2 linked regions of the Homo sapiens genome follow. The protein of the gene in region 1 purifies or fractionates together with the protein of each later gene. This does not show direct contact. Each region holds a gene or a part of one and is shown on either strand. Other genes may lie near its edges.

The links.
Region 2: the proteins of GNRH1 (region 1) and MALSU1 purify together in Homo sapiens (affinity purification with mass spectrometry; 2 studies listed by BioGRID and IntAct, with this or other methods). This does not show direct contact.

The regions. Positions count from the first base shown.
Region 1 is NC_000008.11:25,418,626-25,421,435, forward strand, and holds the end of GNRH1 (progonadoliberin-1 isoform 2 preproprotein), read right to left. Parts: intron 836-2,810; coding exon 794-835; 3' UTR 633-793; downstream 1-632. UniProt on the Homo sapiens protein: Stimulates the secretion of gonadotropins; it stimulates the secretion of both luteinizing and follicle-stimulating hormones.
Region 2 is NC_000007.14:23,302,069-23,309,374, forward strand, and holds part of MALSU1 (mitochondrial assembly of ribosomal large subunit protein 1), read left to right. Parts: intron 1-5,799; coding exon 5,800-5,881; intron 5,882-7,287; coding exon 7,288-7,306. UniProt on the Homo sapiens protein: Required for normal mitochondrial ribosome function and mitochondrial translation. May play a role in ribosome biogenesis by preventing premature association of the 28S and 39S ribosomal subunits.

The sequences.
Region 1 (2,810 bases):
TTTGGAGAAAGAATGGTGGCAATGCTATCTGACCAGGGGACATAGGAACAATAGAGTCCCATCTCCAACGGTCTGTCTGTACTCCATTGTGTTTCTTAAATGCAAACCAAACAGATCAAGCAGATGAACACTCTATTATTTTTTAGGTCTCAGTCCCAACCCTCAGTGTGCACCACTTGGATAGATTGCGTGGGACCAGAAGGAGCGCTGGACTAGGAGTCCTTGGAGGCCCCCTCTCCTTACCCCCAGGCCTCATTTGGGTTCCAGTAAACTTTCAAAGGGTTTGGAGACGATCAAGGGAGGGAACTTCTTTCCAAGTGGAAGAAAGCCTTGGCCGTGGCCCCACCTCAACTTCTGAAGAGTATGGTCGAAGATAAAGTTATAATCCCAGAGAAACTGGAGCTGAATCAGCTTTTTCTGGCTGGACCAGTATGTGGCTGTTCTGCTTGTGGGTAGATGCAGGGTATGGGTGCTGGAGAGCCTGAGATCCCTTTTGTCAACAACAGACACTTTATCTTACCTGCCCTCCCATCTGCCACCTGTATACACACATGGAGGGCTCCCTTTGGTGGGTTTACAGTGATCCTTCCCCCGGAGTTCTGAGTTGGAGAAAGATTTAACAGGTATGCCACTTCATTCACAACACAGCACTTTATTATGGAATATGTGCAACTTGGTGTAAGGATTTCTGAAATTCATACCATTTACAGGTATTTAATGGGTTATAAATTTTCAATGTCAGAATTATACTTAAGTCATGTTAGTAATGGTCATTCCTTCTGGCCCAATGGATTTAAATCTTCTTCTGCCCAGTTTCCTCTTCAATCAGACTTTCCTGAAAAATATATAACAAATATATCAAGACTGACTTTACCAGCTGAATTTCATTACATTTTGACATTTTAATTTCTAAAATATCAGTCTGGAAGGAATTGGTCTGTTTGATTTTGTGCTCTAGTTAGTGCTAGGGAGACATGATAAATTGGGTTTGTTTTTCTGGTTTTTTTTTTTTTTGAGACAGAACCTCACTCTGTCACCCAGGCTGGAGTGCAGTAGTATGATCTCAGCTCATGGCAACCTCCACCTTCCAGGTTCAAATGATTCTCGTGCCTCAGCCTCTCTAGTAGTTGGGATTGCAGGCATGCATCACCGCATCTGGCTAATTTTTATAGTTTTAGTAGAGACAGGGTGTCACCATGTTGGCCAGGCTGGTCTTGAACTCCTGGCCTCAAGTGATCCACTTACCTCGGCTTCCCAAAATGCTAGGATTACAGGCATGAGCCACTGTGCCTGGCCGATTGGGTCTTTTTAAGCACTTAATATACATAAAATCTACATTAATAGTTTAAGGATGAGTTGTGAGGAAGGAAGTGAAAAAAAAGTCTGGTCAATTACTTTGCTATTAAACCAGCCTTTGCTTCAATTTCTTCATAATGTCATGTTTGACAAATTTCACTGCTTGCCATTTTTGTAATGCAGTAAGCAAGATTAGAAAAAGAAAGGAAATAGGCTGGGCGTGGTGGCTCATGCCTGTAATCCCAGCACTTTGGGAGGCCGAGGTGGGCGGATCACAAGGTTAAGGGATTGAGACCATCCTGGCCAACATGGTGAAACCCCATCTCTACTAAAAATACAAAAATTAGTCCAGTGTGGTGGCTCATGCCTGTAATCTCAGCTACTCGGGAGGCTGAGTCAGGAGAATCGCTTGAACCCAGGAGATGGAGGTTGCATTGAGCCGAGATTGCGCCACTGCACTCCAAAAAAAACGAAAAAGGAAATAACGACGTCTGCCCACTTTTTTCTTTGTTCTGTGGGTATATTAAGTTGAAGTCACTGTAGACAATTAAAATTACAGCTTATTTTTATATATGATTTATTTGGGCTTTCCCAGCTCCTAGGCATAACTGATCATTAACTGTAATGCCTTCTGATTGCTGCAGATAAGTGGACAATAGAGATCAGAGAATATCAACATTGAATCCAAGATTCAACTTAAGTCAGGCACAGTGGCTTGCACCTTTAATCCCAGCACTTTGGGAGGATCTTGAGGCTGGGAGTTTGAGACCAGCCTGGGCAACATAGACCCTGTCTCTACAAAAAATTAAAAAATAAAATCAGCTGGGTGTGGTGGCAAGTGCTTATAGTCCCAGCTACTAGAGAGGCTAATCTAGTCTCCAGAATTGCTTGAGCCTGGGAGGTTGAGGCTGTGGTGAGCATTGATTGCACCATTGCACTCTAGCCCGGGGAACAGAGCAAGATCCTGTCTCAACAAATAATTTTTTTAAAAGATTCAATTTATACATTCAATTCTCTTTATACTTTTTCATCAAAAACCTAATATGATTAGTGTATTTCCATTTTGGGGGGCGGAATTTGGAGGTGATTATTGTCCTATCAGGAAACTGGAAATCAAGTCCATCACTCTCTAAATTATAAATTTAGTAGTTTGGCATTTTTCATTCCAAAGAAGAGAAAAAAAAACCCATCTACAGCAGTGTTTCTCATGTCTCTATTCCCCAAGGTTCTGGAAAACCATGTAAGATAAAGCACAGTTGCAGGATCAGGTGGAGGGCTGTGGAGTAGCCTGGAGTGGAGTAGTCTAGGGGGTTTGGTGATTTTACTTGAAGAAATGAAATGCAGCAGTGGGAAGAAATTTGTTTTGTTAGTTATCCCAAAAGCTAGAACCAGGATTAAGAGATAAAAGTTACAGAGAGATTTCAATTCAACTTCAGAAAAAACAAACAAACAAAAAAACGTTTCAGCCCCTAGTGCTGTCTAACCACCAACTGGGATTGTCATGAAACACGGTC
Region 2 (7,306 bases), on another chromosome or scaffold:
CATAAAGCATTTTCATCATTGTAAAACGTTCTATTGGACAGTGCTGGCCTGGAGTTTCATTCAAAGATTTGAGCATGTCCAGTGTTCCCAAGCACTGTACGGGGTATTGGGAAGGTAAGAACAAAAAAGATGTAGTCCTTGCCCTTACAGGTCTAGTTGAGGAAAGAAAGGGGGATTGTTTTCCAGTTGCACTGAATATGAATCAGAATGAGGAAGAAAGTACTTGGAAGCCTCTAGCTGACTCTGGTACCATTCCACGGGGCCATGATACCTTTCTTAGTCTTAGTCTGTTGAGAATTGGTCATAGAGGAGGCAGTTAAGACCAAAAGAGTAGCCAAAATTGTATAGAGAAAGGTTGTAAAATAAAAAGGTGGGGCCTATACACAAAACCCTGGTACATGACAGAGCAGAAGAAGATGCCAAAAACAGGGTAATTGGAGAGATAGGGAGAGAACTAGGAAAGCATAAAGAAGAGATATACAAAGACAGCATACCAGGGTCTCTATCAGATGTAATAGTGGGATGGAGTCAGAAGACTTAGTGACCATTGGACTTGCGGATGTAAAAAGAATGGGAGGTTTTACAGAGAAGTTTCTGTGAAAGAATAAAGAAATAGAAATTGCCTTTACAAAGATTTTAGATGAGAGAAATGCAAAGGCAAGAAAGTTTTGTTGTTTGTGGTAAAATATATATAACGTAAAACCTACCGTTTAATCTTTTTTTTGGAGACAAGAGTCTCGCTCTGTCGCCCAGGCTGGAGTGCAGTGGCTCGATCTCAGCTCACTGCAGTCTCCGCCTCCCGAGTTCAAGTGATTCTCCGGCCTAAGCCTCCTGAGTAGGTGGGATTATAGGCACCCACCACCACGCTTGGCTGATTTTTCTATTTTTAGTAGAGATGGGGTTTCACCATGTTGGTCAGGCTGGTCTCAAACTCCTGACCACCTCGGCCTCCCAAAGTGCTGGGATTACAGGCATGAGCCACTGTGCCCAGCCCATTTAACAATTTTAAACTGTGTTGTTCAGTAGCTTTAAGTACCTTCACATTGACTTACAATCATTACCACCATCCGTCTCCAGAAATTTTTTCATTTTGCAAAAACGAAACTCTGAACTCATTAAACAATAACTCCCCATTTCTCCTTCCGTAGGCAGCTACCATTCTACTGCCTGTCTCTATGAATTTGACTACTTTTCAGTATCTCATAAAAGTAGAATCATAGATTTGTGACCGACTTATCTGACTTAGCATAATGTCTTCAAGGTTCATCCATGTAGTAGCATGTGCCAGAATTTCCTTCTTTCTTAAGGCTGAATAATACTCTATCTTACGTATATACCACATTTTGTTTATCCCCTTATTCATTGATGGACACTTAGATTGCTTCCACCTTTTGGCTATTGTGAATAATGCTGGTATAAATATGAGTATAGAAATACTGTTCATGAGGCTGGGCGCAGTGGCTCATGCCTGTAATCCCAGCATTTTGAGAGGCCAAGGTGGGCGGATTGCTTGAGCTCAGAAGTTTGAAACCAGCCTGGGCAACATGGTGAAACTCCATCTCTACAAAAAAGACAAAAAATAAAATAAAAAATTGGCTGGGCTTGGTGGTGTGTGCCTGTAGTCCCAGCTACTTGGAATGCTGAGGTGGAGGATTGCTTGAGCCCAGGAGCTTGAGGCTGCAGTGAGCCAAGATTGTACTACTGCACTCCACCCTGGGTGACAGAGCAAGACGCTGTCTCAAAAGAAAAAAAAAAAAAAAAAAGGCTGGGTTCACACTTGTAATCCCAGCACTTTGGGAGGCCAAGGCGGGTAGTTCACCTGAGGTTAGGAGTTCAAGACCAGCCTGGCCAAAATGGTGAAACCCTGTCTCTATTAAAAATACAATAATTAGCTGGGTGTGGTGGAGGGTTCCTGTAATCCCAGCTACTTGGGAGGCTGAGGCACGAGAATCGCTTGAACCTGGGAGGTGGAGGTTGCAGTGAGCCGAGATTGTGCCACTGCTCTCCAGCCTGGGCAACAAGAGCGAAACTCAGTCTCAAAAAAAAAAAAAATTGTTTATGTCCTTGCTTTTAATGCTTTGGGGTATGTGCAAAGAAATGGGATTGCTGGATCATATAGTGATTCTGTTTTTAATTTTTTTTCTGTTCACCAGCCTAGCACAAAGCTGAATGTTTTTAATTTTTTGAGGAGCTCCTGTATTCTTTCATAGTGGCTACACCACTTTACATTTCTCTAGCAGTGCAGAGTTTCCAGTCTTCACATCCTCATCAACAACTTATTTTCTCATTTTGGTAATAGCCATCCTAATGGGCATGACGTGATATCTCATTGTGGTTTTTATTTGTATTTCCCTAAGGATTAGTGATGTTGAGCATATTTTCTTTTGCTTATTGGCCATTTGTATATATTCTTTGAAGAAAAGTCCTTTGCTTTTTTGTTTGTTTTAAAGAGACAGTGTCTCACTTTGTTGCCCAGGCTTCAGTGCAGTGGTGTGGTCATAGCTCACTGCAGCCTGGAACTTCTGGGCTCGAGTGATCCTCTCACCTCAGCCTCCCAAGTTGCTAGGACTAGAGGAGTAGGAGTAGTCAAATTCATAGAGACAGAAAGTAGAATGGTAGGAGTTACTCCACAGTGCCCAGCTAATTTATTTTTTATAGAGACAGGGTCTCACTATATTGCCCAGACTCTTTGCCCATTTTAAAATCAGGTTGTTTGTTGTTTTGTTGTTGAGTTGTAGGAGCTCTCTATATATTCTGGATATTAATCCCTTATCAAATATGTGATTTGCAGATGTTTTCTGCCATTCTGTGGGTTGCCTTTTTACTCTTTAGAGTGTCCTTTGATGCACGAAAGTATTTAATTTTGGTGAAGTTCAGTTTATTTTTTCTTCTGTTGCCTGTGTCTTTGGTATTATATCTAATAAATAATTGCCAAACCAGTATCATGTTTTCCCTATTTTCTTCTAAGAGTTTTATAGTTTTAAGTCTCCTGTTTAGATATTTAACCCATTTTGAGTTAGTTTTTGTAGGCGGTTAGTTTTCCATGTGGACATTTCCTCAGCAACGTTTGTTGGAAGGACTGTCCTTTGTGCATTGAATGGTCTTGGCTCCATTGTTGAAAATCATTTGACCATAGGCACAAGGGTTTATTTCTGGGCTCTGTATTCTGTTTCATCAGTCTGTGCGTCTGTCTTTTTGCCAGTTTCAGACTGTTTTGTTTACCATAGCTTTGTTCTAAGTTTTGAAATCAAGAAATATGAGACTCCAACTTTGTTCTTTTACAAGATTGTTTTGGCTATTTGGGGTTCCTTGAGAGTCCATATAATTTTTTTTTTTTTTTTGAGATGGAGTTTCGCTTTTGTTGCCCAGGCTGTAGTACAGTGGCACAATCTCGGCTCACAGATTCAAGCAATTCTCCTGCCTCAGCCTCCCAAGTAGCTGAGGTTACAGGTGCCCGCCACCATGCCCAGCTAATTTTTTGTATTTTTAGTAGAGATGAGGTTTCACCATTTTGGCTAGGCTGGTCTTAAACTCCTAACCTCAGGTGATGCACCCGCCTTGGCCTCCCAAAGGGCTGGGATTACAGGTGTGAGCCACCGTGTCTGGCCCCACATAAAGTTTAGGTTGGATTTTTCTGTTTCTTCAAAAAATATTGTGATCTTGATATAGATTGCACTGAATCTGTAGACTGCATTGGGTAGTATTGGCATCTTTACAATATTGTCTTCCCATCCATGAATATGAAGTATCTTTCCATTTACTGGCATCTGTAAGTTCTTTCAGCAGTGTTTTGTAGTCTTCATTGTACAAGTCTTTTGCTCCTGTGGTTAAGATTATTCTGCTAGGCTGCTCACGGTGGCTGATGTCTGTAATCCTAGCACTTTGGGAGGCCGAGGCAGGCAGATCACCTGAGATCGGGAGTTCAAGACCAGCCGCACCAACATGGAGAAACCCCGTCTCTACTGAAAATACAAAATTAGCCGGGCGTGGTGGCGCATGCCTGTAATCCCGGCTACTTGGGAGGCTGAGGCAGGAGAATCGCTTGAACTTGGGAGGTGGAGGTTGCTGTGAGCCGCGATTGCGCCATTATAGTCCAGCCTGGGCAACAAGAGCGAAACTCAAAACAAGAACGTCTCAATTAAAAAAAAAAAAGTATTATTCTGCTATTGTAAATGGAATTCTAAAAACTTTGTTTCCAGGTTGCTCATTGTTAGTGTATAGAAATACGATGGATTTTTGTGTGCTGAATTTGTTTAGTAGCCCTAACTGGGTTTTTTTTGTGGAATCTTTGGGGTTTTCTACATATGAAGTTGTATTGTCTTCAGAGATAATTTTACTTCCTCCTTTCCAATTTGGGTACCTTTTTTTTTTTTATTGACGAATTGCTCTGACTAGAACTTCCAATACTGTGTTGAATAGAAGTAGCAAAAGCAGGCATAGTCTTGTTCCTGATCTTACAGGAAAGCTTTCAGTCTCACCATTGAATATATTAGCTGTGTGCTTTTCTCACATGGCCCTTATTATGTTGAGGTAATTTCCTTTTATGCCCACTTTGTTGAGTGCTTTATTGTGAAAGGGTATTGAATTTTGTTAAATGCTTTTTCTGCGTCAGTTCAGATTATCATATAGATTTTTTCTTCATTCTGTTAATGTGGTGTTATTGCATTGATCCGTTTTTATATGTTGAACCACCTTGCATTCCAGGGATAAATCCCACTTGGTCATGGTCTATAATCCTTTTAATATGGTGCTGAGTTTGGTTTGCTAGTATTTTTGTTGAGGATTTTTGCATCAAATGTTCATCAGGGTTATTGGTCTTATGGAATGAGTTAGGAAGTGTTCCCTGTTCTTCAATTTTTTGGGGAGAATTTGAGTATTGCATTCTTGTTTAAATATTTGGTAAAACTCATCAGGGAAGCCATCTGGTCTAGGACTTTTGTTGGGAGATTTTTGATTACTGATCCAGTCCCCATACTAGTTATGGTCTATTGAAACTTTATATTTCTGCATGATTCAGTCAGTAGATTGTGTTTCTAGAAATTTTGCTATTTCGTCTAGGTTACCCAGTTGTTTGGTGTACAGTTGCTCATAATACTCTTACAATCCCATTTCTCTAAAATCAGTAGTGTCACTTCTTTCATTTCAGATTTTAGTTGTCTTTTTTCTTAGTCATTCTAAGAACCAAATCCTAGTTTCATTGATTTTGTCTTTTTCCTGCCCTAATTATCATTTCCTTTGATTTTGGGGTGATGTATATGAGATGTCCTTTGTCTCTTGTAACAGTTTTTACTTAATTGCCATCTTGTTTGATATTAGTATATCTGTTTTAACAAAAGAACTGAGCACATTTATAGGATGACGGGGTCCCATTAACATGTCATAAAGGCAGATGAGATGAAATCAGTGGCACTGAAACAACCTGGCTTTATAAACAGAAGGTAGTATCTGCAGCCCCTAAAGGTGAAGGAAAGCTGGGATGAACACAAGTGATGGATGTAGGTGGGTACCAAATGCTGACTGAGCTTAGCTTTTTCAGCCTCAGAGGCACCTTGGTGAATGAATGGGGTGACCCTCTCAGAAGGGCTGGGGCAGGAGAATTCAGGAGAGAGGTGAAAGTGAATAAGATTTAGAGGGAGAAATAGTTTCCCTAAGTTATTCATCACAGGGCAAAGTATAGCAATGAGAAATGAGTAAGAAAGATTAAAAAAAACAAACAAACAAACAAAAAAAAAAGACCTTCAGCAAGAACAGGCTTCCCCCATCCCCTCTCCCTTTAATAAACCACCTGGCTTTTTGCAGTACAAACACCTGAAATGTAAACGTGACCCTCATGTTAAGATAGAAGGGAAGGACACTGATGACTGGCTGTGCGTGGATTTTGGTAAGTTATTCTGGCGTATTTTACAGGTAACTGTTGGTACTACGCTAATCTTGAATTGTTTTCAGTTGCAAAAGGATTGAGATCAAATTGATGAATGTATTTCCAGGTAAGATTTTTGAAGTGTGTTTAAGGTAACAAAAGTTTTTTTAGTTATAATCCAGGTGGTCTTATTCACATGTAGAATTTTCACCTAACCAAACCAAAGTACCCTAGATGATGCCCTCCTGGAGGAAGATATATACTACATGGTGTGTATCTACTAGCCACACAGATCAGGAAGGTGGTGGACAACAGGATAACATAGTAGAGGCGGGAGAGATTCCTTAGTAGTGGTAGAGGAAGGTTTGGGGGCTGTGGTGCATAAATGAGATGAGGATGAGGTTATTCCAGGCACAAAAAAGGACAAGAGCAGAAGACTAGAATTTTGAAAAGATCTAACAACTTTGGGTATTAATGTGTACATAGTTTCAAAGCACCTCCCAACAAGATAATATTTACAAAGGGGAAACATAACTGTATGTCAAGAACTGAGGAGTCTGAGATTTTATTCTGCTTGTAAGCTAATACATTGTCCCGCCAGTTTTCATGGACACTGGTAAAAGACAAGACTATTAGAGGGTTAGAGACAAAGAACAGTTTATTACTCACAGCAGTAGCCAGCATCCATTTTGCACTGGTTTCCTGAGCTCTGGATTCCATAGGGCAACATGGGCCAGATGACACCAGCACACACAGTTGTAAAACTGGAACTCAGATGAGGGTGTCTAGGTTTTTTATAACTGGCAGGAAGCAGGCCTACTTTTGCTCTGATGGTTTCTCACTTTTGTCGCTATTAACGTTTTGGACCAGGTAATTTTGCATGTGGGGGAGGGGTGTCTCTTGTGCACGGTACGATGTTTAGCAGTATCCTCCCTTCTCCAATTGTGACAATCAAAAATGACTCTAAACATTACCATTATTACCTAATTGAGAAATGCTGCTGTAAGCAAAGCTGCCCTTTGCCCTGGAGGGAGGCAGTATCTTTCTGTTAAGAATATTCACGATACAAACATTCTTGGATAGTCAAAACAAAAGGCAGTCAGTGTTTTTGCACAAAAGATGTGCAGAAGTGTGTTACCCATGGAGAATTGTCACCGAAGAGAATCCTGACACCATTAGTCTCTTTGATAAAGTTACTATCACCAGCAATGTTATATATTGACATATGCCTCCTGTAGGTACACTGAGAAAGGCATAGCATCACTTCTGTGGTATTTTTGCTGGGATGGAGTCCACAGTGATGCTAATCTGGGAACCACACTTGAGAACCACTGCTTTATTCCTAGAGTTAGCCAGTGTGTGTTGTAAGGTAAGAATAAAAGCAAATGAACTATTCCTTCATTGTATCTCTTATCTGTCCCTGACAGGCAGCATGGTGATTCATTT